Linked DNA regions of Homo sapiens. The protein of the gene in region 2 interacts with the protein of the main gene of each other region in a pairwise test. Each region holds a gene or a part of one and is shown on either strand. Other genes may lie near its edges. The genes, in order: SPMIP2, KLHL41 and IFRD1.

Region 1 (6,708 bases), on a different chromosome or scaffold from region 2:
ACTGGCAAACTGAATCCAGCAGCACATCAAAAAGCTTATCCACCACGATCCAGCTGGCTTCATCCCTGGGATGCAAGACTGGTTCAACATACACAAATCAATAAAGGTAATCCATCGCATAAACAAAACCAGTGACAAAAACCAGATGATTATCTCATCTCAATAGATGCAGAAAAGGCCTTCGACAAAACTCAACACCACTTCAAGCTATAAACTCTCAATAAACTAGGTATTGAGGGAACGTATCCCAAAATAATAAGAGCTATTTCTGACAAACCCACAGCCAATATCATACTGAATGGGCAAAAACTGGAAGAATTCCCTTTGGAAACCAGCACAAGACAAGGATGCTCTCTCTCACCACTCCTATTCAACTATTCAACATAGTATTGGAAGTTCTGGCCAGGACAATCATGCAAGAGAAAGAAATAAAGCGTATTCAAATAGGAAGAGAGGAAGTCAAATTGTCTCTGTTTGCAGATGACATGATTGTATATTTGGAAAACCCCAACATTTCAGCCCAAAATCTCCTTAAGCTGATAAGCAACTTCAGCAAAGTCTCAGGATACAAAATCAATGTGCAAAAATCACATGCGTTCCTATACACCAATAACAGACAGAGAGCCAAATCACAAGTGAACTCCTATTCACAATTGCTACAAAGAGAATAAAATACCTAGTAATATAACTTACAAGAGATGTGAAGGACCTCTTCAAGGAGAACTGCAAACCACTGCTCAAGGAAATAAGAGAGGACACAAATAAATGGAAGAACATTCCATGCTCATGGATAGGAAGAATCAATATTGTGAAAATGGCCATACTCCCCAAAGTAATTTATAGATGCAATGCTATCCCCATCAAGCTCCCATGGATGTTCTTCACAGAACTGGAAAAAACTATTTTAAATTTCATATGGAACCAAAAAAGAGCCTGCATAGCCAAGGCAATCCTAAGCAAAAAGAACAAAGCTGGAGGCATCATGCTACCTGCCTTCAAACTATACAACAAGGCTACGGTAACCAAAACAGCACGGTATTGGTACCAAAACAGATATACAGACCAATGGAACAGAACTGAGGCCTCAGAAATACCACCACACATCTACAACCATCTGATCTTTGACAAACCTGACAAAAACAAGCAGTGGGGAAAGGATTCCCTATTTAATAAATGGTGTTGGGAAAACTGGCTAGCCATATGCAGAAAACTGAAACTGGAACCCTTCATTACACCTTTTACAAAAATTAACTCAAGATGGATTAAAGACTTAAATGTAAGACCTAAAACCATAAAAACCCTAGAAGAAAACCTAGGCAATACCATTCAGGCATAGGCATGGGCAAAGACTTCATGACTAAAACACCAAAAGCAATGGTAACAAAAGCCAAAATTGACAAATGGGATCTAATTAAACTAAAGAGTTTCTTCACAGCAAAATAAACTATCATCAGAGTGAGCAGGCAACTTACAGAATGGGAGAAAATTTTTGCCATCTTCCCATCTGATAAAGGGCTAATATCCAGAATCTACAAAGAACTTAAACAAATTTACAAGAAAAAAACAACCCCATCAAAAAGTGGGTGAAGGATATGAACAGACACTTCTCAAAAGAAGACATTTATGCAGCCAACAAACATATGAAAAAAAGCTCATCATCACTGGTCATCAGAGAAATGCAAATCAAAACCACAATGAGATACCATCTCACACCAGTTAGAACGGCAATCACTAAAAAGTCAGGAAAAAACAAATGCTTGAGAGGATGTGGAGAAATAGGAACACTTTTACACTGTTGATGGGAGTCTAAATTAGTTCAATCACTGTGGAAAACAGTGTGGCGATTCCTCAAGGATCTAGAACTAGAAATACCATCTGACCCAGCCATCCCATTACTGGGTATATACCCAAAGGATTATAAATCATTCTACTATAAAGACACACGCACATGTATGTTTACTGAAGCAGTATTCACAATAGCAAAGACTTGGAACCAACCGAAATGCCCATCAATGATAGACTGGATAAAGAAAATGTGGCACATATACACCATGGAATACTATGCAACCATAAAAAGGATGAGTTCATGTCCTCTGCAGGGACACGGATGAGGCTGGAAACCATCATTCTCATCAAACTAACACAGGAACAGAAAACCAAACACCGCATGTGCTCCCTCATACGTGGGAGTTGAACAATGACAACACACACAGGAAGGGGAACATCACACACCGGGGCCTATTTGGCGGGTGGGGGGCTGGGGGTGGGATAGCATTAGGAGAAGTACCTAATGTAGATGACGGGTTGATGGGTGCAGCAAACCACCATGGCACGTGTATACCTATGTAACAGACCTGCACGTTTTGCACATGTATCCCAGAACTTAAAAGTATAATAATAATAAAAAAAAAACTAATAAGGCAGGATTGAAGTATGAGGCTGGTAGAGAGATATAAACAAAAGCAAAAAAAAAAAACGACAAAGAGACATGTTGCAAGTTAACTGCAAAAGCAAACACCTCATAAGGGGGAAATACTTTGTAAATAAAGTATGTAAGAATAATCTATGACAGGAAATGCCAAGAGCCGAACAACACAGGCGTCACATTCTGGGTGTGAAAGATGAGAAATCTAAGCAAAACACAAAGGCCCCAGTCTCTTAGGAGGCTTAGATAATTTAAACGTCGACATTATAAATATTTTCTTCTCCCAAGTGAGGGGAATCATCATCATGGATAAGCGGGGGCAGTTCCCCAAATGTACAATGTCTTTTTGTTCTCTTTTGAAAAATCAAGCTGACAGTAAAACAGAAGTAAGAATTACTTCCCCTAGAGAAGTTATAGCAAATACCCTCTGGAGGATGATAGGCATTTTTAGTAACATACAAGTCTCCTCTTTGGTGGGCTTATAATAAAGGAAGGAAAGCACTGTCCCCCCACAGACACGCAGGCAGGCTCCTCAAGCCTAGAAGGGCCTTTCCTGCCACCAGGTGGAATGTGCCAACCTACTCCTCCTCCAGGAAGTGAAATGTAAACACAAGCTGCTGCTGCATGTCCCACAGCTTGTGACTTCAGCATCTTATTCAGTTACTAGAAACGGGCAGTGTGGGATTAAATTTTCTTTTCAAGCATAAGATAATCCACAGAGAAGAGCAACAAAGCACGACCAGCCTAAAGTCCTGCGATTGATTGTAGGTGTGAAACCCAGTATCAGATAACGGAACATGCTGTTCATTGGGGAGTTGCAGAGGCACGTATCTGATGGACTCCACATACTTTGATGGGTTACCAGGGCCTGAGGTTTAGGGTGACACAGGCTAAACACGTTAGTGGGTACAATGCTAGGGATACCTATCAAAGGGACAAGTGACGGCACTTCACAGAACTCACCCCAGTACGACACCTAATTCTTTCACATGGACTCGTGTGTGTCCCCGGAGATATTCAGATAGCATTTTACTTTTAAGGTACATCTCCTGTAGTCTATCTTCAAGATGCATGATGCACTGCAAAGCCAAGAACATTCACAATGAGGGCTAGAAGTCAAATCTCTGCCAATATTTTAAGAGTCAGAATTTTCTTAATTCATTTCTAACTACACAGCTTTTATCTCATCAGTTTCAAATACACTTAAAAAATCACAAGCCATCTCAAACCCTACCACTACCAGGTATAAGAATAGGTTCTTGTAAAACAAAGTTTACTTTTGCTAACTATTAAGATTTACATATGTATTATTCTAGTCTTTTTAAACAAGTATTTTTTTCATAGTTGAAATCATTCCAAAAGTGTTTCTTGCCTTTAAAAAACTTTATAATAATCCTTTCCCATATTAAGAACTTCTTGATATAATTTTTATAGCTAAACAATATTGAGAATGTGAATTTACACGTAACCACATAGCAAATTGCATTTTTGTTATAAATAATTTAGTAAACAGTATGGTTTTTGTTTTTTTCCCCCAATAGCTCAGATTATTCTGGCCCAGTACATTTCCAGAGGAGACTGACGGGAACAGGTCATTTTGAACCTCCCCCACAACTTTTTTTTCTTTTGCTTTCAAGAATGTATTTTAACTAGGTCTTTAATAACAATAAAGAAAAGGCAATTATTTTCAGGACATCTTTACCCTTGGAATAGTGTTCAGCTTCATTTTTTTAGAGAATAGCAACCATCTGTGTCTTTCACCAGAGGCAAATGCTTTTGCATTTGGCAGGCAGATACCCGAGCATCTTCAGTAAGACACCTGATGGCTTTGGCAAGGGTAATTCCATCATACCTAATTTTCTTCTAGACCATTAGGCCTGTTATTTTCAAGGTAAAAAGATTAACAGATGCATTTGAAAATGTTGATCTTGACCATCTGGGCTGATCAACGACATGGAAAAAATATCTATCAGAGATGCAATCTTTTCAGTTTTTCATTGGTTTAAAATCTTAAATACATTGTGTCAGGTGGATGAAACACAACTGCTAAGTGACTAAGAGTAATAAAGTAAGGAGGATTTCACCAATTCTCATGGAAATGCTCCTCCAAGTAAACAAGGTGGTAAAAGGATCTTTATTAGCTTTCAGTTCCTTATGGAGTGAAATAGAAAATTTTTAGTAAGAGTCACAAAATATTAAAAATAATATTCATATTACATTGAACCCTTTCTGTTTGGAAAAAGTAATTACAGTGTTCACAGCCTATATGAAAACTGTATGATGCAGTGTGGAAATAAGAACTGTGGTCTATATGAAATATATACTAGACGTGAAATCAAAGCATTTAGACAACTTTTAGCCAGTCATAGTGGCTCACGCATGTAATCCTAGCACTTTGGGAGGCTGAGGTAGGAGGATCACTTGAGCCCAGGAGTTCAAGACCAACCTAGGCAACATAGTGAGCCTCTGTCTCTACAAAAATTAAAAAATTACCTGGGCATAGTGGCCCACACACCTGTAGTCCTAGCTAATCAGGAGGCTGAGGTGGGAGGATTGCTTGAGCCTAGGAGGTCAAGGCTGCAGTGAGCCAACATCATACTACTGCACTATAACCTGGGTGACAAAATGAAACTCTGTCTCAAAAAAAAAAAAAAAAAAGAAAACATTTTTTAAAAGACTTGATTATTCCATTGAACCATGCTGGGGGCTTTTTAAACTCCTCTTTCTGGGATTTTATTCCTGAGATGGATTTCTCCAATTTTTAACTTCTAAAATTTCAAATAGCTACCTTCTCTTTTTGTATTGAAGGTTCTAAAAGCCATTTAATCACAGGTTTCATTCAAGTGATTTTTTTTAAGGAGAATTTTAAACTGCAGATAAAATTTTCTTTGATCTTGGTTTTGTCAGGTTAAATAAGTCATTCACACTAGTAAGTGCTTGAACACACTTCTGTCCAAAGGAAGTAAAAAGAATTAACTATAACAATTTATTGCTTTGATAACCAAGATATCAACTGTGACAAGACGTATGTATTATAGAATGAAATATAAAAGTTTGGCAAATACTTATGAAGTAAACTATGAAGTCTAATATACATTACTTCTCTTACAGAAAAGGAAACATTAACCTCTAAATCAGCATAACTCAACCTGCTTTTAGAAGGAGAAACTGCCTACTACTGTATAACAAAAAATAAGATCATAATAATCCACAAGTGCTTCTCATATTGCCCCAGGACAGATGTCTTGCAAGAGTACGCTTCAGCTTAAAGCCCAAATAAACAGTTTGGAAAAAAGGTGTTGTCAGTCTTTGCAACCATTAATATTGTTTCATGAAACTAATTGTTATTGACTATCATACTAATAGTAGCTGTTTACTGAGTGCTTATAACATCTAACACTATTCCAAGTGCTTTACATTCATTCTCTAATATAATTTCATAACCATAGGAGATAGGTTCTATTATTTCCCCAGCTTTGCAGATAAGGAAATTAAGGCTTTGAAAGAGTACATGGTTAGGAAGTAGCAGAACTTGGATTTGACCCCAGGTTATGGGGCTCTAAAGCTAACATATATGGCTTTTAAAGTATTTTATAATATTGGCATGGTGCTTTAGCAGTAAAAAGCAGTTATATCCCTAATTTTCAGAAGATTCTCACAGCACCCTTGTTGAACAGGTACTATCTTTCTTTTACAACTAAGAAAGCTGAGGTTCGGAGAGACTCGGGATTGTCCATTGTTACACAACTAACCAACGGCAAAGCCTAGACCATAACCCAGCTACGCTCAGTGGTCTTCCTGCCTTGCCACACTGTCCCGACTTTGATAACAACCAGACGGTATTTCAGAGCACCTTCTTCAAAGTCATAAAAGTCTAGACTCTTTTTGAGGAATGGGTACAAGTATAGATTTGGTCATAAAAACCCAGGACAATGACCATTACATTAGCAATTAGCGTAGGTAATTAATATTTAAAAACTTCCTGCTTTGTTGGGTAAACAGGTTTGCATCATTTTTGGAGGCCAGGAAGCAGATAACAGATGTTTTGGTTTGGGGCTGTGCTGCAGAGAACAGCGCTGTGCAGACAGGAGGGAACAGCAGAGAAAGCAGACTCTTTCCTCACACACCTGTCTCTGAGGTCAGCCCATCCAAGCTCTACCCAGCTATATGCCATATGCCCTTAAGCTTCTCTCTCTCTTTTTAAGTGTTCATCACCACTGGAAAAGCTTTTCTTCTTTTGAAACCTTTCCCCCTCCCTCTCTAAATGTATTTTCTCTTTCTTT
Region 2 (7,112 bases):
CAGCAAAGCAAATGCCTTGCTGCTTTTAAAAGGCACTAATAGAACGGTATGCCAGGATAAAAACACTTCACCATAAAAGAGGGTTGTGACTCATCAGACAATATTTACATGAGAATTTCAGGTTTTATATTTTTCTGCTTGGTCACATCTATTTAAAATGCATTAATTTAGGAGTAATTTGACCTTTGATTGTATGCTGTAAATAGATTATGAGAATTTTTTACCTTGGTAAGGGAGGATTTTTTCCCCCACTCATTAATTTGAATTAATAGATTCATCAAATCTTTGAACAGGTCTTAAAGTAATCTAGGTCCAAACCCTAATTTTAACAATGAGGAAAGTTGAACTCAGAGAAGTTAAATAGCTTGATAGTTCCTCTATAAAAGAGACTGGTAGGTAGTCTACTGTTCCATCTGCTAGAGAAAGTGCCCTCTAACAGGTAATATGGGAAGGTAGGCAGTACTGTACAGTATGAGAGTTAAGCCCACAGGTATGGGATTATGATGGCTGCTGTTTCCATTTTTTAAAACCAACTGTGAATGTACATGGCTTGGATTTGAATATCACCTAAAAGTTCTGTGTATTTGGGAAAATTATTTAATCTTCCTGTGCCTCGGTTTCCTCATCTGTAAAATGGGGATGATAGAAATGCCTATCCTGGAGAACTAAATGAGGTTACCTGTGTAAAGCATTTAGTTCAAAGACTATGACAACAGTCAAAACCCCATAAATGTTCATTATTATTTCTACTATATTACATACCACCTTCATGATCAAAGAATTTCTTTCAAAAGTGAAAACATAAGGGATCAAAATCTAGCTGTTGAAATTAGTGAATGCAAAGCTAAGAATGCACATGTGGAGATTAAACTTCTCATGTCATCTAGTCTTAATTAGCGCTTTGTTTAACTGAGGTTACTAGACCACATATAGATAGGCTTCCACAGACACCCCTGTCTATACCACAGCCATTTGTATGCACATCTATTCTTAGTATCCAGTGAAACTGGGTTTTATTCATTTTATTTTTGCAATCTAGAAGTGGTACCAGAGAGAACAACAAATCTGCAACTGTACTCTTGCAGAAAACAGTTTTCTTGTGCCTTAGTGTGCTAAAATGAAAAGTGTAAAATATTTAAATTACCAAAAGTAAGTGATGAAACAGATGCCACCATCATCTACCCCAGGGCATGGGCACAAGGAGATTTTCCTCCTTGGGAAAATCTTAAGCTTGCAGAAGTGGTGGTGACCAAAAATGAGCAGTTACTTATTAATATAAATTTTTTAAAAAAGAGAAGAGTATTTCAAGGGACTCCCAACAACACACTAGGAAATTCACTTTAACGCCTGCCTGTATCAGGAATAATAAAGCAAAACACAGAGAACCTAAAATGTTTTTAAAGAAAGAAAAAAAGATATTGCCCAACATCCCAGTTGTTTGTGGACTGAGTGACAGGTCCAGCTGTCCCAGCTGCCGGCATGGGGAGCATGTTAAATATAGCACGCAGGGGTCATTCACATTCTGTGACCCTCCTTGTTATGACAACCTTTCTTTCCCCAGTGTCCTAAAAGTATGAGGATCTCCTGTTTCAAAGCTGAACAAGGCAATATGGGAGAAAATTTGACAAGAAACCTCACAGTTGTAATTAACCTCTGGTGATTCTATTTTATTTTTTCTTTTCTTGAAGCCTTGAAGATTTTGATATCTTTATCTGGTAGGCCAAGTAGATTTACTCATTCTTCTTGGTAATTATGAGCTACAATGTGATACTTTGGGGTTGTAGTTTTATTTACTTGTGAGATATTTGACTATCTCGATGACTTCTAAACAACATATAAAGTATAACTTTTTTTGGTGTACTTCTAATTTTTTTCTAACAGGCTCCACAATCTCTCATATATGTTTTTTTCAGCTCGATAGCATAGCATCTGAATGGGTTGGACTTCCACCTCTGCCTTCAGCCAGGTGTCTCTTCGGTCTGGGAGAGGTGGATGATAAAATCTATGTAGTTGCAGGCAAAGACCTTCAAACAGAGGCTTCGCTGGATTCAGTATTATGCTATGATCCTGTGTAAGTTGGCATGATATTCCTGTTCCCTAAGCATTCAAGTATATGCGTGCCTACAACATATTCATATTTTCAGAACCTGGAATTTACTGAAGGTATATAAATTCTGTCTCGTTTAATTTTAGGGCTGCAAAATGGAACGAAGTAAAAAAACTCCCTATCAAAGTCTATGGCCATAATGTGATTTCACATAAAGGGATGATATATTGTCTAGGAGGAAAGACAGATGACAAGTAAGTACCCTGAACTCTCATGATTTATGTCTAAATGACTTTTTATTAGAAGGGTTTCTTCCTCTTTTCTTTTCTTTTTTTTTTTTTTTGAGATGGAGCTTCACTCTTGTTGCCCAGGCTGGAGTGCAGTGGTGTGATCTCGGCTCACTGCAACCGCCGCCTCCTGGGTTCAAGCGATTCTCCTGTCTCAGCCTCCTGAGTAGCTGGGATTACAGGCATGCTCCACCACGCCTGGCTAATTTTGTATTTTTAGTAGAGACAGGGTTTCTCCATGTTGGTCAGGCTGGTCTTGAACTCCCGACCTCAGGTGATCTGCCCGCTTCAGCCTCCCAAAGTGCTAGGATTATAGGTGTGAGCCACCACGCCCGGTCTCTTCCTCTTTTCCTTTGGATCTGCACACTAAAATGGGACATGGTTCTCACCTATCATATTGTGGAGGGAAAATCTTAAAATTTCAAGTCGCTGAAGTAAACATGTAGATACTCAGCATACTGCTAGGAATGAGCCTAATACCCCAATCATAAGCATCCTTACAGTCCAGGCAGTATCTAGGAGCATAATCAAGTCCTGTATTTCACTGATTTATAATTGTATTTTACTACATTAAAACCAATGGGTTTTCTTATTCATTTAGCCATAAGTAGATAAAAATTGAAAGGTATCTTTAATGTAGTATTTAAAATATATCTTCTAAGACAACTGTGCATAAAAAATATCATGGATTTGTACTTTACATTCATAAGAGGGACTTTAGATAGGTCAGTTTGAAAGAAAAGCGTGGTGATTGAAAAGAGGGAAGTAAAAAAGACAAAATAAAAACAAAAAATTAAGGCAATTATTTCCTCAGCAGTGTTCTTCCACATATTTACTCCCTGACAGAGGTAATATTCAAAATGGCTTCCAACTGTTCAAAACTGAGCTCCCAGTAGCACCCAGTATCTTGTGAGAAAACCAGGATGAGGTTTCATATATAAACCTAACTTGATTTCCAGTCAATTCTTAAGGAACCTGTAATCAGGAAAGAGATGTTATAACCCAGAGAGAGGAGAAGTGAGCTCCGAATGCTTCAGAGACAGTCAAACCAGTATAACCTGTCTAGTAAAATAAGCATTTTCAGTTTAGATGGTGAGAACTAATATTCTGCCCCTGAAAAATCTGCCTGATTTGGCTTGTCATCATTTGCCCAGGCCATTGAATTAATAGTGATGTCCAACCCTGAAAAGGGAGCCAAAATTTAGAATTGTAAGGGCAAAGCAGGAAAGGAGAGTAAAATATAGAAATGTGTTAGATGTCAAGAACTCTATTCTGGAGTTAATGATTATTGGGTATTAGTCAATTTAAATGGTAAATATAGCACAGAAAAGGCGATTTTAAAAAGCAATGGTTTTTAAACATCTACCTGTATTCAAAGATAACATATTCTAAAATTTTTATATCCTCCCTAATCCCAGCTATTCCTATCAAATTTAAAGGAAGGTATATTATATGCTTACCTGGTGCCAGATCTTATTTTGGGCATTTTTCCTGAGTAAACTGAATGGAAAATCACTACTAAAGAGCATTCTGACTTTGGAAACACAGGAACCCTGCCAAATGATTTAAATTGTTTCCTTCAAGCAGCATTAGTAACTAGGAAATTGATATGTCAGTAAGAAGCATACAGTTCTTGTCAGTAGGAATATATCAATCTTGAGAATATGATTAACTAACACAACACTGCTTGACAAATGTCAAAGTCAAGAACTTTGAAATGAGTCATTATCTAAAAGTAAGTGCTGGGCTGGGTGCAGTGGCTCATGCCTGTAATCCCAGCACTTTGGGAGACCGAGGCAGGTGGATCACCTGAGGTCGGGAATTTGAGACCAGCCTGTCCAACGTGGAGAAACCCCGTCTCTACTAAAAATACAAAATTAACCGGGCGTGGTGCCGTTTGCCTGTAATCCCAGCTACTAGGGAGGCTGAGGCAGGAGAATCACTTGAACCCGGGAGACAGTGAGCTGATATCGCGCCACTGCACTCCAGCCTGGGCAACAAGAGCGAAACTCCGTCTCCAGAAATAAATAAATAAATAAAAGTAAGTGCTGAATTGCACCAGTTCCCACTAATGAATTTGAAGAACGTGATTTTGGATAATGTTCTTATCAAGAAGTGTTCAAATGATACCAATAGTCAAATATTAGAGGAAATGCTTCTACTCCAGATAACTGGTCTTTTACACAATTAAGAAAAAAATTGTCCTCACAAAAAAGTTAAGGTGTTTTTCATCACCAAATATATCCAGTTAATCAATTATTATTTGAAATTCTGAACTCCCATCAAATTATAGATAACTTCAAGGAACCATAAAAAACATACTAAGGGCGGGGCATGGTGGCTCACACCTGTAATCCCAGCACTTTGGGAGGCTGAGGCTGGAGGATCACTTGAGCTCAGGAATTCGAGACCAGCCTGGCCAACATGGCGAAACCCTGTCTCTACCAAGCATACAAAAAACTAGCTGGGTGTGATGGCACATGCCTGTGTTCCCAGCTACCTGGGAAGTTGAGATGGGAGGATCACTTGAGCCCTGGATGCGGAGGTTGCGGTGAGCCAAGATCGCACCACTGCACTCCAGCCTGGGTGGCAGAGTGAATAATAATTCAGATGAGTCCAGGTCTTTCTGGTAGCATTTAGCATGTAAAACTGTTGTCATGATTCATCAGCTCAGATGATTTGTTGTCTAATCCATAGTCCCAGATTTCTTAAAATGCACTGGTATGTTAGTGCTAATATAAAATAAAATGATCTATCATATAAAATTTAAAGTAGGTATATTTGCACCTAATTATTCTTTAAGTTAACTGATTCGTTCCTAGGATATTCAGATAATAAATAAACTTACCATTTGTTATTGAGGTGCAATAAAAGGTTTATGATTTTATTTTTTACTCAAATAGAGTAAAAAAACTTCAATTGAATTTAGTAGATACGATTAAAATCAGCTGTGCCTGGGGTTCTAAGCAGCTATCCAGAAGTAAAGGTACCCTATCTTCCAACAGTAAAATTAAGTTATAGTTTTGGTCCCCACATTTGGGCTTGTCCTTTGTTTAGTGGCATATGTTCAAATTAAGAATTCTTTGGAGTTTTCTGATCCTACTATATATTTTTCATGACAAGCAAAGCCAAATTATTAGTGAAGGTGCTGTCAAAAAAAGGTTCTAAAAGGAACATTTGTTTTTCTGTTTACAGAAAATGTACAAACAGGGTGTTTATCTTCAACCCCAAAAAAGGAGATTGGAAAGATCTGGCTCCAATGAAAATTCCTCGTTCCATGTTTGGAGTAGCAGTCCATAAAGGCAAAATTGTGATTGCAGGAGGTGTCACTGAAGATGGTCTTTCAGCTTCAGTTGAAGCTTTTGACCTTACAACAAATAAGTGAGTTGCCACATCTTAGTATATAGCATGTGAACAACTATACATTTTAATTGTTAACTTTGGATAAAAAGTTATCTTTCTAATTAGGATGTGGGGAGGGGAGGGTACAGAGCCACAGATTACAAAGGAAGTATTTTCATCTGGGTTTCTTTTGTTGTTACTGGATGTAAATCTTGTCTAACATTCTGATGCATTATATGTCTGTAATCTGGAACACATGACCCTTAAGTCAGTGTTGTCATGCTCTATTTGTCCTTGTTATTAACTTTGTGAATTTAGAAATGCAAAGGTAATACTTGTGAATAATTATGATTATTTTTAAGAGACAAGGTCTGGCTCTGTCACCCAGGCTGGAGTGCAGTGGCACAATCATAGCTCACTGCTGCCTCAAACTCCTGGGCTCAGGTGATCCTCTCACCTCAGGCTCCTGAGTAGCTAGGACTACCACTATGCCCAGCTAATTTTTGTTTTTGTTTTTGTTTTTGGTACAGACAGGGTCTCACTATGTTGTCCATACTGGTCTCTAACTCCTGGCCTCAAATGATCCTCTCACGGTGGCCTCCCAAAGTGCTAGGATTATAGGTGTGAGCCAGCACACCTGGCCCTGAATAATTGTCTGTGTAGATGGATATACATGTCTCTGTGGAATCATTTGATTTTAAATGTAGTTTCTTTATGAAAAGATCTTCACTTAACTTGTTAATGATTGATATCTGTAAAGTATGAATGCTTCCCAAGTTTTCATTCCTTTACGCTGTTTATAATTTTATTAAAAATTTCATTTTTAAGCTTTTATTGACTTAATGTGAAAAGATATTTGACAGCTATTCTTCATATAAAATTGGTCTTTTTAAAATTTTTGAGCTCACACATCTGGATGAGTATGTACCTTTTATATTCCTAGTTTAGCAATGAAGAAAAAAGAGAAATATTATTACTTTTTTTAGAAACATGTATGCCTGACTACAAAACAGACTTTAGTATCTGAAAATTACAAGGAACTTTTGTGGAACACTATTTAAATTATCATTAAAAATAATGTTTTCGAAGACTGTAATGTGGGTAAACACTCATGATGTAAGTTAAGAAGCAACACACAAAAATTGTAAATATCTTCTTAGTTTCATTTATATGTATGGAAGCTTAAATGTACATGCTTTTTAAAAAGATGACAAAATTACACCAAATTGTTGCTTGTGATTATGTCTGTAAGGTATGATTATGGAGATATCTGCTCTCTTGTATACCTTTCTGTACTTTCCAGATTTTCTCAAACTTTTTTTTTTTTTTTTTGAGACAGGGTCTCACTGTGTCACACAGGCTGGAGTACAGATTTTCTATAATGTACATATATTATTTTTATAATTAGAAAAAAATCGGCTAATTTTTTGTATTTT
Region 3 (7,975 bases), on a different chromosome or scaffold from region 2:
CTTTGCTTTTAAGAAAACTGCTAAAATACAGAGGAAATTGACTCCCTCATTCAATTAAAAACACAGTTATTGTCTACTGGGCCACTATGTACAGATGTATAGGTTGTTCCCTGCTGAAGAGAGATTGGTGACTGGATTCCAGCCCATAAACACTCATCAGACTTGGTGTTCTGTTTCTAATTTGCACAAAGGTGCTACATGTGTGTTTCAGAAGTGACAAAACTGGGCTTTGCCCACAAGTAGCATGTAGCTTGTATCTCATGTCTGAGGGGAAAACAGACAAGTAATCAAGAACTACAATACATATTAAAAAAAAAGAAGTAAAAAAACCCTACAATACATATAATTAATGCTAGTCTAAAGAAGGCACTGCAAGAACAAAAAAGAAAGACATTTAAATCAGACAATTTGGGGGGCCCAGGATTAGTGACCGAGGATCAGTAACTTAAAGGATGATGGGGAGATCGTGGGGAAGGATGTTCTAGGCAGAGGAGTGACATTTAATTATTAATACATTTATTCATTCAGTAAATGTGTTTTGTTAGTTCATGTCTTTTATTAACTCATACACAATTAATTGTCTTCTGGTTTGCTGAAGCAATGAGACATTTGTCACAATAATGTCTGTCAAAGTGGCTGGCCATAAACGCTCCAGTACCACATTCATCTGAAGAGCACTCTAGATGAAGGCGACTTATTTTGCCATTCTCATCCACCTTACAGTATTTCAGGACAGCCAGCTTCACCTTCTTTCGCTTACGCTTATTCTTCTCAGGAGTGGTGTAAACATTCAGTAAAAAATAATTGAATATCTAAGTGCCACGTACTGTTCCAGTACTGAAGATACAATAGTGAATAAAACAGACAGGATCTCTTTCTTGTAATTCTAACATTCTAGTAGAAGAGACAAAAAATAATTGGGCCAAAAAATATTAAGTAGTGCGATGTACTTTGGGAGAATATAAGCAGGGTGGAGGTGCTGGTGGTAGGTGGGGTGAGGATGCGACCTTAGAATGGAGAGTGGAAGAGTGGGAGAGTAGGAAGGCCTCTTCAGGTAGGTGTCATTTAAGCTCAGATCTGAATGGCAAGTGTGGGAAGCTCGGGTTGATCATATCAGGCAGAGGGAGGAGCTGTTGCAAGTCTTAAGTGGGGAATGAACTTTGTGTTTTTAAGTTGGCAAAGACCAGTGTGGCTGAAATGCAGTGGATGAAAAGAGGGGCAGGAGATGCAATATGGAGAGAGAGGTATGTGCCAAACCTAGGTAAGGCCTGGAAGCTTGAGAGTGGTGAGCTCAGAGACCTGCTAAGAGTTTGATATGGCATTAGGAAAGGGACTGTGTTAGGTGATGAGAGAAGTGATTTGGGAGATACAGGCAAGAAACAGATTCCGACAAGCCCTACATGGAGGATCTGGGAGGTATTATTTCTGCTCAGTGCTATGCAGAGAATCCCAAGGAGGCCATGACTAAAGTCATTCAAAGAAAACCTTTCATGTTTATGCCTTCAAGGAAGGTATGAATACTGAATCTTATCTTTATTACTTGTTCTTGAATCAAAGTCATCAATGAGAACTTAGAACTCTTCTCAGGCGTGCCCCTAAATTCTGATTAATGTAAGATTTATTTTTGCAACATTTGAGTATACTTACCCTGATGGTGATTTCTGTTCCATGGAATGTTAAACTAAGTTGTTTTGTAAAAGAAGAATATATTTTACAATGACTTAAATGTTGAGGCAGCACATAATGTCATGTTGGTAACAAATATGTGATATTTATTTATTAGAGCATGAGAGTATTTTGCCTCCTGATATATGAGGCAGACATTGCTATTTGTCTACCTTATATCCATGGTTTCCCCTTCATTCTTAACAACAGAACCTCAATTTTGTTTGCGAATGAGCCCAACCGAAAATACTTGTGTTCTAAACTTCCTTGCAGCTAGGGATCATCCTGTGACACAGTTCTGGTCAACATGTAGGTGGAAGTTTCTAGGGAGTGTGGTCTTTCCTGAAGAAAAAGGCAAAGTCTGGAGAAAGCCCTTTTTCCTGTTCCCTTTCGTGCTTCCCCTTCCTTTCTGGTATTTGTAATCATTTAGTGACTTGATGTTTGGAGTCTTCTAATTTCTTTAAACATATTGCAAAATAGTATGTGGAGCTGAAGACCACTGTCCCATGAGGAGGTGGGCTACATCTTTGTGATGTTTGCACTGGTCTGGAGCTAAACTGCAGGCATAAAACTATAGTAAGGTAATTTTATCAAAAGTACAGTATCTCTCAGAATTCATTATACTGAAGGCTGTACTTCATGTTTGTAGTGATAAGTAGTTTCTCCCTTTCCTTGATCCAGAATGTATGTATGTAGTGATACATAAGTTTCTCCCTTTCCTTGATCCAGAAAAATCTAGTCAACAATTATTTCTTAAATGTTCATTTAACTATATATATACTGACTATAATTTCAATTTCAAATGTAACACTTCCTTTTGTGCCATGAGGGATACAGCAAGATTTTTTCAAGTTCCTGGGCCTGTAGATTTAAAAAAAAAAAAAAAAGAAAGAAAAGTAAGAAAAAAAGAAAAGAAATTAAAAAGAGGAAAAGATTTTTGTTCTTGGGAAGCTGATAATTTCATGAGATGACAGATGTATTCACAAATAAATGTAAAACAAGTACGTATATGATGTGGTGGGCCATGGCCAGGCCTGCCGCAGAACGACTAAGTGGATGTGAAGGGATTTGGAAAAAAAGCCCCTGCCCCAAATGCAAAGCACACGTTTCCAGGGCTGGAACCTGGATGTTAGGCCTAGGTGATGTGACTCCAGAGTGGCAAAACTGTTGCCTTATGTATAGTATAAATTGTTTCTGGATGGTGAAGAGCCTAGGGTTATAAAAGTTATTGAGTCTACAATTCTGTGAGACATCTCATTCTGTATAGGCCCTGTCACTGAGTTGCAGTGTGCCTCTAGATACAAGGAGTCAGTGTGAGCTGCTTCCTCCCCCACAACCTGCCTCCGTATTTGGTTTCTGTGCTCTGTGCAGTTTACTGGCTGCTTCAGGATTAAACAAAGTAAAAGCAACCCTGAAATGTTGCCCATTAAATAGCATCTTTGAGTAGGCCGTGTGGGGAGGTAATAAGTGCCATTAGGGCATTATTAGGATGAGTGTCAAAGAGTTGTGAGGAGGAAGAAACTTCTGGCTGGAGGCTTCAGGAAGGTGGCAGCATGAGCTACATCTTGAACGGTGGATAAAATTTCTTAAGGTGAAGATGGGAGGAAAGGCATTACAAGAACAGGAAAGAATATGAATGAGGAAATGGAGGTAGGAGAAGAGAGCCGTGTATTGGAAATGAAAAGCAGTCCTGTTTGGCTGAAGAACAAGAACTGTATGAGGAAGCAGTGAAAGATGAGGCTGGAAAGGGAGTCAGGGCCAGGCTAAAAGGGTTGGCATTTAAAGTTAGTCATGGGAGCCATGGAATGTTTTTGAGCAACTATTAAAGCAGGTGGATTAGTAAAATAGGGAACACACAAATAAATCTGGCAGCATTACTGTGCATGAAACATGGATGAAAAGACTGGGAGATCGCTTAAAATGCCCAGGCATGAACTGAGGTCACATGTGATCACAGAATAGGACAGGAATTTAAGAGTGCTATTTTAAAACTAATTGCTTTGCGGGTGGGGAGGGGGTGGTGCATCAAAGGGAAAAAAGACTATGAATTTGAGTTTTGGAATTTAACATATGGGAGGATAATAAATAGTACAGTGAACAAAGGGAAGACAGGAAGAAGGAAATATAGTATTCGTTTCAGAGATGTTGGGTTGAGGCACAAGTGGAACATTCTGGTGGAAATTTGCTACAGGCAATTGAAAATAGAATAGAGCTCAGCTGAGAGGTGGAGTGGCGGATGACTCACCTACATTGAGGTGAGTCAGGGACTTTGATCTGTCATAAGCATAGTATATGAACCTAATAACAGGCTCTAAATACTAGACAAATGTCCTAACAAGGAAGACAGAGATCTAGGAGTGCCTTGAGAAAAAAGGCAGCACTGCGATTATTGATCTGTATAACTTGTGTTTGTTTTACCAGCTGTGAAATTCTCAGAACTGGCAGGTAGTATTGTCAAGGGACACATTCTTGTATAGAAACCCACAACGCTGAATCGTCATATATTCCTAGTCTAGAATCTGAGATATACACGAACTCCACAACTAAGTAGACGAAAGCATCCCTTTTTTTGGGGGGGGGGGGGGATGGGGGGCACATAACCCTGAACCACGGTCCAATTACAGGTACAGTACTGATGATGGCTTAAGTAGTTCATGGAACTAGTTAAAACTAAAACCATGGAAATGTTACCCAGGAGAGGTAAGGCTGCGTGCCTGGCAGGTGCCGCAGGGAAGTAGGGGAAAGGTTAAGGAGAACACCAGCCTCCGGAGAAAGAGAAGCAAAGGTGATTGCATAGCTGCCAGCTGGAAGCCGACTCTCGTCATAGGGCATACTCGCCCCACTGTGCATCGCCGGTGCCTACCTCACCCAGTTCCAAGGCGGGGGCGCGCCGAGGCAGGGGTGGGGTCACCAGGAGAAAAGCAAGTGGGCAGAAAAGCCCGTTGGGAAGAGACGGCTGGGAGGAGGCCCCGGCCCCAGCCTTACTACGTTTCCCAGAATTCAGTGAGGCCACGAAGACAGGCTCCCTGGGCGCGGACGGAAGACTGGCCGCATGGGATTTGTAGGTAGGATCCGCGCCCCGCCCGACGGAGGCGTCCAGTGGGGAGGTGTGCAGGGATTGGTTGGGAAGCGCTCAAGCCCCGCCCACAGAGTGACGTCAGGTGGCGGTATTGCTACTTAAGGCGTCGTGGCCTCCCCTGCCCCGCCTTAGCTCCCGCGCTAGAGAGAAACATGTATCGTTTTCGATCACAGCTCTTCACGGGGATTTCTGCTGCCGCCACCGCCCACTCTTACCCCCGCCGCTTCTCGACTCTGTTGTTAGCCGAAGACTCGCCTCTCAGCCGCCCGCCGCACAGACGCACGAGTAAAAAGTGCAGCTCCATCGGCTGATCCTCGCTAAGCTCCGACTCTGGGCGGCACCGGGCGTCCCACGATGCCGAAGAACAAGAAGCGGAACACTCCCCACCGCGGTAGCAGTGCTGGCGGCGGCGGGTCAGGAGCAGCCGCAGCGACGGCGGCGACAGCAGGTAAGGGGTATCCCCGCCGCCGGCATCCCAGTTGCCGGCCAGGCTGGCGAGTCTTCCATGCTTCGGCACGGTGGGAGTTGTAGTTCTTTCTCTGATGTACACATTTGCATTTCCAGGGTGCGTGGTTTGGCTACTGAACTACAATTCCCAGCGTGCCCTGGGCGCTGCTCCTCGCGCGATTTAGATCTGGCGTGCGAACCGGACTCTTGGGCACCGGCCGTGGGGGCAGGGAGGAACGGGTCCTTGGGCCTGAGAGTGTGTCGGGACAGGGGCTGACCGGGAGCTGGGCGGGAAAGGAACCATTGTCAGAGTTCCTTTCTCGGCGGCGATCTCGCCCGATCTCTCCCCGACCACGGGTGGGGAAGAACGGGGAGTTGAGCCCGTGCCGTCACTGGCCGCCTTTGACACCCTGGCTCCAACATGGAGCTCCTGGGATGCCAGACGTCCGGCGGGTTTGGACGGGCTCTTGCGTCACGCGGCCTGGGCCTTGCGCGGTGGGCCCGGGGTGACGCAGAGGCGCTGGGGAAGCTTTCCGTCTCGCAGGTCCACCTGGCCAGGCGAAGGCGTCGGAGGCGGGGGGACCACTTTCTCCCCCCTAGGCTGTGCTCCTTCCCCTAACTGGCACCTGCAGAAGCCCTGAACCTCTAGCACCTCTGCGACCACCCGAGGCGACCTCCTGCTCACGGGGGGAAGAAACGCGTTCTCCTTTGTGCTGCATTCTATATGTTCTCTGCAGTGAGCCCCAGAGAGGCAGGGTGGTGAGGAGCTTAGGTTGCAGTTGGCTAAAAGTTGAGGTTATTGTGCCCTCGCTACGAAGTTGAAACTTTTCCTGGGTGGGATGAGTAGGTGCTTAACTGAACTTATGGTTTTCTACTTATTATATGGTTAAGAAAAAGGATTCCAATTGGAATTGGAAGGCCCTTCTAGGAGAGACCCCAATAAACTCAAATCGAGTATTAAATAACCTGGGTAATATTTTATTTAGAAATTTAAACAGGAGTTAAATATTGGAGTATTCTCCGACGTTATCACACTGGAACTATTAGCCATCAGGTATTTTTGGACACAGTTGCCCCTCTGCCACGGCTGCCACTCAGAATGATATGCCTTTGTTCACAAGAAAAGTAAATATGGGGTTATGTTGTTAAAGGTTATTGGAAACTGGCATTTAAAAAAGCTCAAAAACTCGTGATCATGTATTAAACATTTAATAATTGACCATAGGGAGGGATTCTTAAAACAGCAATTTTTTACATTTTTTAGGTGCCTCTTTATTTTGAATGCTCTCCATGTTGATGAAATTCATTCTTTATCAAGATGTAAAATATGTAATTTATTGTGGCCTCTGGTTGCTCTATGTGAATTGAGGATACTTTTTTTTTTTTTGTTAAGGGAAAGAGGGAGTCTGGCTCTGTCGCCCAGGCTGGAGTGCGGTGTGGTGTGATCATAGCTCACTGCAACCTCTTAACTCCTGGGCTCAAGCAGCTCTCCCTCCTCAGCCTCCTGTAGCTAGGACTACAGGCATGTGACACCATTCCTGGCTATTTTTTACATTTTTTGTGGAGACAAGGTCTATGTTGGCCAGGCTGGTCACGAGTCCCTCGTCCCCAGGGATCTTCCTGCCTAAGCCTCCCACAATGCTGGGACGGTGCCTGGTCTGAGGATATTTCTTACCACTGTGTTTCAGCTTTTCCTCATCTGAATCAAACATTTGAATTCTTTCTAGAAGGTATTTATTTTATTCTATTACCCTTTTGTTGATGAAATGGAAAAGTTTGAAAGCTAAAGTTTGAAAGTTATAATGATGTTAGTAATGGCCTAGATCACGCACAAACCTTTAATCCCGTCTAAAGTTTCTGGGCAAGCCTCCTTCCCTCTTTGTGCTTATAGTACCTATACAGGCCTCTGGTGGCTGTATGGGGATTGCCTTTTAAATTTTGCTTCAGGGCTCATTTGTGACCTTTCATCAGCTTTATTGCTGCTACCTTTTCACTATTTTAGTAGAAAAGATCCATTTCATCACTGAATTTTAGCATATGTAAACAAGTGGAAAATAATTCTTTGATTAATTTATAACACAATACATGCTTTGAATATCTTTGGAAGTGTGTGCTAGAACTTGTTAACTGTGGTTACCTCAGAAGTGGAGCTGGGGAAAGGTATGGGGGTGAGATTTACTTTTTAAAACTTTAACTTGGTCCTATGTGAATGTTTTACTTGTTTAATAAACAATGAATAAATAATAGTTGAGTAGAAGAGATGGAAAATTACACAAACTTTTGCTTACTTAACAAGCCACTTACCTAACTAGTATTTTTAAATGACATCTAAAAGAAATGGGATTCAAATGAGGTCTCCACTATGTAACCAAATTGTCATTATTACTTTAATGAGTTTTCTATTTAAACTCTTTATTTTTTTTATGTTAGTGGAGAGTTTTAGGAAGCTAATAAAATTGACTTCTTTTATACAGGTATGTCATAGCACTTAATTTAAAGAGAATATTTTTAAGAAAGAACAAAACCTTGTTAGTAAGCCCTCTAGAAATAAGTACTTTATGTGCCTAGAGTGCCATCTCTTTCGTGGTACTTAGGATCACAGTGTGGGTGGGTGAGTTTGACCTAAATATCAGGCATTCATACAGGGTTCTTTTTCTTGATACATATATATGTGTATTTTTTTTCTTTCCCTCGAATCTTAGAAATCATTAATACTGATGAGTTAAGGGAGCAGAGTAAGAGCTGCATAGGAGGAATACTCTTAGAAATAGGCTATGAAAAAGA

The links.
Region 1: the proteins of KLHL41 (region 2) and SPMIP2 interact in binary tests that used the Homo sapiens proteins (3 or more experiments, as listed by UniProt).
Region 3: the proteins of KLHL41 (region 2) and IFRD1 interact in a two-hybrid assay, tested with the Homo sapiens proteins (one study listed by BioGRID and IntAct).

What each region holds. Positions count from the first base shown.
Region 1 is NC_000004.12:158,892,546-158,899,253, reverse strand, and holds the end of SPMIP2 (protein SPMIP2), read left to right. Parts: intron 1-3,388; coding exon of another isoform or gene 3,389-3,504; intron 3,505-5,536; coding exon 5,537-5,551; 3' UTR 5,552-6,120; downstream 6,121-6,708. Other genes in the region: FNIP2 (folliculin-interacting protein 2), read right to left, coding at 3,389-3,504.
Region 2 is NC_000002.12:169,512,661-169,519,772, forward strand, and holds part of KLHL41 (kelch-like protein 41), read left to right. Parts: intron 1-1,913; coding exon 1,914-2,071; intron 2,072-2,193; coding exon 2,194-2,301; intron 2,302-5,529; coding exon 5,530-5,715; intron 5,716-7,112. UniProt on the Homo sapiens protein: Involved in skeletal muscle development and differentiation. Regulates proliferation and differentiation of myoblasts and plays a role in myofibril assembly by promoting lateral fusion of adjacent thin fibrils into mature, wide myofibrils.
Region 3 is NC_000007.14:112,445,591-112,453,565, forward strand, and holds the start of IFRD1 (interferon-related developmental regulator 1), read left to right. Parts: upstream 1-4,869; 5' UTR 4,870-4,896; coding exon of another isoform or gene 4,897-5,055; 5' UTR 5,056-5,098; coding exon 5,099-5,192; intron 5,193-6,467; exon of another isoform or gene 6,468-6,921; intron 6,922-7,975. Other genes in the region: uncharacterized LOC128031837, read left to right, coding at 4,897-5,055. UniProt on the Homo sapiens protein: Could play a role in regulating gene activity in the proliferative and/or differentiative pathways induced by NGF. May be an autocrine factor that attenuates or amplifies the initial ligand-induced signal.